2 separate regions of the Homo sapiens genome follow, and region 2 is linked to region 1. The links come from fine-mapping of genetic effects on gene expression. A gene starts in region 1. The other region holds a variant in brackets. All regions are shown on one strand. Distances are from middle to middle. Region 1 holds the start of RANGRF (RAN guanine nucleotide release factor). Region 2 has its middle 5.2 kb from the start of PER1.

Region 1 (2,905 bases):
TCCCAGCACTTTGGGAGGCCAAGGCAGGCGGATCATCTGAGGTCGGAAGTTCGAGACTCACCTGACCAACATGGAGAAACTCCATCTCTACTAAAAATACAAAATTAGCTGGGTGTGGTGGTGCATGCCTGTAATCCAGCTACTTGGGAGGTTGGGGCAGGAGAACAGCTTGAACCCAGGAGGCGGAGGTTGCAGTGAGCCAAGATCATGCCATTGCACTCCAGCCTGGGCAACAAGAGTGAAACTCCATCTCAAAAACAAAACAAAACAAAAAAACCCAATATATATCAGGTCTGTTATGCTCTAAACACCGTGCCGGGTGCTGAGGATCAAAGATGAATAGAGAAATGAACTGAAATGATATAGTGAAGTTAAAACTTAAAGAACACAACAAATCTGTAAAAGACAAACAAAAGAGGGTTTAATCTGTGCTTCTGTCCAGGTGTGTGGAGCTGGGGGTGGGGTTGCACCTGCCCGGGAGCATTCCCAAGGCAAATATTTGAGAGGAATTAGATTTCTAATACCCAGGTTGGCTCTCACTTTCAGGAAGATGTGAGACCTGAATCCTAACCTGGACGCATTGTTCCCCTAATTCCCAGCAGCAGATCTATGAATTAGCGGTCTGGGTGGCAGCCCATTCTTCTTTCAGAGGCCCAGAACACCGTGAAACTATGCTTTCCTGACTCAAGAGACCCTACCTAGACGTGGGCCCCTTTGACGAGCACCTGCCCCTCAGGAGGGTCTCAGGCGACCTTCTTGGAAGGTGTGACCACTTGAAAAGGACGAGGAGGCCAGGCGCTGTGGCTCTCGCCTGTAATTCCAGCACTTAGGGAGCCGAGGCGGGAGGATCGCTTGAGTCCAGGAGTTTGAGGCCAGCCTGGGCAAGATTGGGAGACACTCCCCACCCCGCCCCATTTCTACAAGTAATTAAAAATTTAGCCGGGCGTGGTGGCGGGAGCAGGAGCCACTCAAGAGGCTGAGGCAGGAGTATCACTTGAGTCCTGGAGGTGGAGACTGCAGTGAGCGGTGATCGCGCCACTGCATTACAGCCTGGGCGACACAGCGAGACCTGTCAATCAATCAATCAATCAATCAATCAAGAGGAGGCTGGCGGGAGCATGCTCGTGACCACCGGGGGCGACATAGACCCTAACCCTAAGTCCAACCCCAAGGCAGACCCCACCGTCCCGCCAGGCGCACTCCTAAGAGCGCGGCTTCCGGAGCAAAGCCGCTGACCCCCGCCCCCAGGGTCTTGGCGCCGATTGGCCAACGAGAGCGCAGGGCGGAGCCAAATCTTAAAGGATCCGGGAGCTAAGCCAGACCCGGGTGGCGGTGGCAGCTGCGAAACCCAGGGAGCCGATGCCACGTGACCCAATGTGGACTTCTTTTAAACCTTTCTAATGCCCATAACCCAGCCTCAGACCCATGGAGCCCACGAGAGACTGCCCGCTGTTCGGGGGCGCCTTTTCCGCCATCCTCCCCATGGGGGCCATTGACGTAAGGTGAGAAGGCCGGGGCGCCCAGGGGCGGCTGACTGGGTGGGTTGTGGGAAGAGACCGGGGTCAACCAGGGTCTGCCTCGCCTCACTCCAGCGACCTCCGACCGGTCCCGGACAATCAAGAAGTTTTCTGCCATCCCGTGACGGACCAGAGCCTGATAGTGGAACTTCTCGAGCTGCAGGCCCACGTACGGGGCGAAGCGGCTGCGCGGTGAGGGAATGGCCCCCGGCTGGCCAATGGCAGGGGCGGGGTCGGACCAGTGGGCGGGGCCCGCGGCCGACGGTTAATCCGGGCGGTGAGACCACGCACGGGCCGGGAGCCAGGCCTGCAACTTAAAGATGCTCCCGGGGAGGCGACCAGAGATGTCCCTTCCTGACCCCGCTTCCCTACTCCAGGTACCACTTTGAGGATGTTGGTGGCGTGCAGGGGGCTAGGGCTGTCCATGTGGAGTCTGTTCAGCCTCTCAGTTTGGAGAACCTGGCCCTGAGGGGCCGCTGTCAAGAAGCCTGGGTCCTCTCTGGCAAGCAGCAGATAGCTAAGGAAAACCAGCAGGTGAGGGCCCGAGAGTGTGTAATGTCCTGGAAGGGCGGTAGCGGGGACGCAGAGATCCAGGTAAGCATCCTGACTCTGATCCCCTTAGGTAGCAAAGGACGTGACACTTCATCAGGCCTTGCTGAGGCTGCCCCAGTACCAGACTGATCTCTTGCTTACCTTCAATCAGCCCCCGTAAGGAGGAAGGAACGGGCGGGTATCTCATGACTGGGTTCCCAGGAGAATCGGGCTGGGAGGGACAGAACAGGGAGACTCACTGGTGGGATCCTCCAAGGAAGCAGGAGTGGGCCAGAGGTTTGGGGTAACTGATACCCAGGTCCTCTGGGGAACAGGAATTGGCAATTTCCAAACCTCAGGCCTGGATGATGTTCTGTCTCCATCTGTTCCCCCACCCCAAGCCCTGACAACAGGTCATCTCTTGGCCCCGAAAATCTGTCACCTGCACCCTGGAGCCTGGGTGACTTTGAACAGCTGGTGACCAGTCTGACCCTTCACGATCCTAACATCTTTGGTCCCCAGTAAAGGCGCTGAAGCACTGCATGATGTTGCTGAGAACTTGGGGACTCGGTTCTGTGAGGGGGAAAAGAGGTTGAAAAGAGGGTTTCCTCTTATTTCTTCCCTGTGCGTAAACATAAGACAATCCCTCTTCAGAATAAACTTGCTTTATAATCAATATAATCTCTGTGCCTTTGAATCTAACAGGACACCTGGGTCCCAGACGCCTGGGAATTGGGTCTCTCGATTCCCTTTGGTTTTGGAGGGAGGAGTTTAAAACTGTGCATGGGAGCAGGAGGGACTCAAGGGTGGCAGTGGTGAGTGGGAGGAAATACACTTTGGGATGACTCGTTCAGCCC
Region 2 (2,905 bases), 130 kb before region 1:
TCCCTATTCTCCACAACCATCAGAGCTCCCACCGCAGTTATCACGTATTTGCATGATCCCACACACACACACTCTAACACCTTCCTAACCGACCACACCACCCCGGAAAAGTCCACACCGATCGCCCCGCATCTCTCCCCCATCCCCGAGCACTCACCGCTCGGCGCGCACGCACACTCCAAATTTCTTCTAGGACTTCTAGCATTACACTGGCTCCTCCAAACCCGCCCACGGGCCGGGCTGCCACGCCCCCCACGCTTATTGGCTTAGGGGCGCCGACCCATGCCCCGTGCCGCGTGCAGCCGCCGGCCCCCGCACAGCCTCCATTGGCACCTCCGGCCGCCATCGTCTTCTCATTGGTCAGCAGGCCAACGGGGGCGGGAGAGATACACGTGAGAGAGGGGCCGCCCCAACGCGGGGATTGGAAGCCTGACCGGAAGCCACGCCCTCGACACTTCTGAGGTTCTTATTGGCTGGGGAAATAACCCCCGACCTGCCAAGATTGGTGACGTAAATGCCAGTCCCGCTCTCCAAGCTTTCTCATAGGCTGAGAGGTCTTGGAGCTGTAGGGTACACGTGCCGGCGGTCTCACGCGGCAACTTGTTTACCCAGAAGCTGGGGATTTTCCTTGACGACACTCTTAACCACGGCTGCTAAATCTGCGCAGGCGCAGCCGTGAGCGGTGGCAGCGTATAAGGCGCACTTTGTACAGAGACCCGGGCGTGACTAGGGCGCCTCTGGCGCTGGGGTTCCGGCCCTGGGTCCCACCGAGGCTCCCTGAAGCTGGAAGGTGAGAGTATTAGGGTGAAGCGGTCTTCAGATCTCAGCACGGTGTCTTGGTGACGATGAAAATAAGAGAGCCTCTTCCTGATTGTTTTCTGCGGGCCAGGCCAGGCGCTTCTCACAAACTCTGAGGAGGCCAGCTCACATACTCCCCCCGCCTCACAAATGAGACCGAGATGCAGGGGGGTTACGTAATCTGTTCGCCTGTAACACGCTAGTCAGTAACAAGGCGAAAACTTGAACCCAAGTCCCCGACACCATAAAGCAGGCGGGTCCTGGGGCCCATGGGAACTCTTAAACCTGGAAGGAATTTGAGTTGGCAGTGCGAAATCCTGAGCACTGCCTGGCATATAGTAAGACTTCAATCAAGTTGGACATTCTGGTAATGATTGTGTACCTAATTATAAGAATCACGGTGGCTCACGCCTGTAACCCCAGTACTTTGGCAGGCTGAGGTGGGTGGATCACTTGAGGTCACGAGTTTGAGACCAGCCTGGCCAACATGGTAAAACCCTGTCTCTTCTAAAAAAAAAAAAAAAAAAAAAAAAAAACGACGGCCGGGCGCGGTGGCTAACGCCTGTATTCCCAGCACTTTGGGAGGCTGAGGCGGGCTGATCACGAGGTCAGGAGATCAAGACCATCCTGGCTAACACGGTGAAACCCCGTCTCTACTAAAAATACAAAAAATTAGCCGGGCGAGGTGGCGGGCGCCTGTAGTTCCAGCTACTGCAGGAGAATGGCGTGAACCCGGGAGGCGGGACTTGCAGTGAGCCGAGATCGCACCACTGCACTCCAGCCTGGGCGACAGAGCAAGACTCTGTCT[C/CAA]AAAAAAAAAAAAAAAAATCCCTACAAAAATTAGCCGGGCATGGTGGTGGGTACCTGTAATCCCAGCTACTCAGGAGGCTGAGGCACAAGGATTGCTTAAACCCAGGAGGCGGAGGTTGCGTGAGCCGAGATTGCACCAAGGCACTCCAGCCTGGGTGACAGAGTGAGACTGTCTCAAAGCAAAAAAAGGCCGCGCGCGGTGGCGATTCTCCTGCCTCAGCCTCCCAAGTAGCTGGGATTACAGGCGCATGCCACCACGCCTAGTTTTTTGTATTTTTAGTAGAGGTGAGGTTTCACCATGTTGGCAAGGCTGGTCTCGAACTCCTGACCTCAAATGATCTGCCTGCCTCAGCCTCCCAAAGTGATAAGATTACAGGCGTGAGCCACCACACTCTACCTAAAATATACTCTCATTTGTTCAACATCGTGTTAAGTGGATTTTTTTTTTTTGAGACAGTCTCGTTCTGTCACCCAGGCTGGAGCACAGTGGGGTGATCTGGGCTCACTGCAACCTCCACCTCCCAGGTTCAAGCAATTCTCTGCCTCAGCCTCCCGAGTAGCTGGGATTACAGGTGCCCGCCACCATCCCCGGCTAATTTTTTGTGTGTATTTTTAGTAGAGATGTGGTTTCACTGTGTTGGCCAGGCTGGTCTTGAACTCCTGACCTCGTGATCCGCCCACCTCGGCCTCCCAAAGGGCTGGGATTACTGGCGTGAGCCACCGCGGCCGGCCACTCATTGTTGAAGCACCTGGGAACAGGGATACTAAGATGCCACATCGGGGCCTCCTGGACCTACAGGCTGTGGCAGTTCAGTGTGGGGTCTAAAGTCACAAGTCATACAACAGAGTACAGGGGTAGTAGGCCATCTACAGGCAGCTCCACAACATACTCAGCTTTGTCTCTGTGAGCCTATTTAAACCACAATTTACTAACCCCATCTGGGCGCTGGCACTGGGTTAGGCACAGAGGGGAAGACATGCTTCACAGAAATGGCCAACTACTTCATCTACTGCTGCACGGGAGCCACGGCAGAGCGTCTAGAAGTTAAATCGAGGAGTAGAAAGGAGTCCAACAGCAGGAACATGCCCCAGTAAAGGGAAACGAAAGCTGGGAACCCTAGACCACAGGGCGCACCGGGCTTAGAGACACGGGCTGGCTATGACACTTCCCATTACCAACTCCTAGTGCCCCCCTGTGGCCACTTTGAGAATCACACTTTGCCCTGCCCAAGGTCAGGGCCTCTTGCAAAGTCCAGTCCATTACCAATGTATCTTCTCAACCTTCCTGGTATACCTTCC

The links.
Region 2: its variant is fine-mapped to the expression of RANGRF in whole blood (INTERVAL, PIP 0.97).

Annotation. Positions count from the first base shown.
Region 1 is chr17:8,287,364-8,290,268 of GRCh38, forward strand. It overlaps RANGRF (RAN guanine nucleotide release factor), which reads left to right and starts at 1,307. Exons shown (of 5, transcript NM_016492.5): 1 at 1,307-1,502; 2 at 1,593-1,709; 3 at 1,895-2,051; 4 at 2,140-2,225; 5 at 2,450-2,724. The coding sequence starts at 1,426. The coding sequence ends at 2,573. It overlaps SLC25A35 (solute carrier family 25 member 35), which reads right to left. Exons shown (of 5, transcript NM_001320870.2): 5 at 2,698-2,905. RefSeq lists enhancers at 970-1,199, 1,560-1,679, 1,960-2,029 and a silencer at 1,760-1,809.
Region 2 is chr17:8,156,150-8,159,054 of GRCh38, forward strand. No RefSeq gene overlaps it. Among named protein-coding and RNA genes, the nearest start is that of PER1, 5.2 kb to the left of the region's middle. RefSeq lists silencers at 127-386, 2,857-2,905 and enhancers at 887-946, 2,497-2,736. The variant C/CAA (reference allele first, on the strand shown) is at 1,607.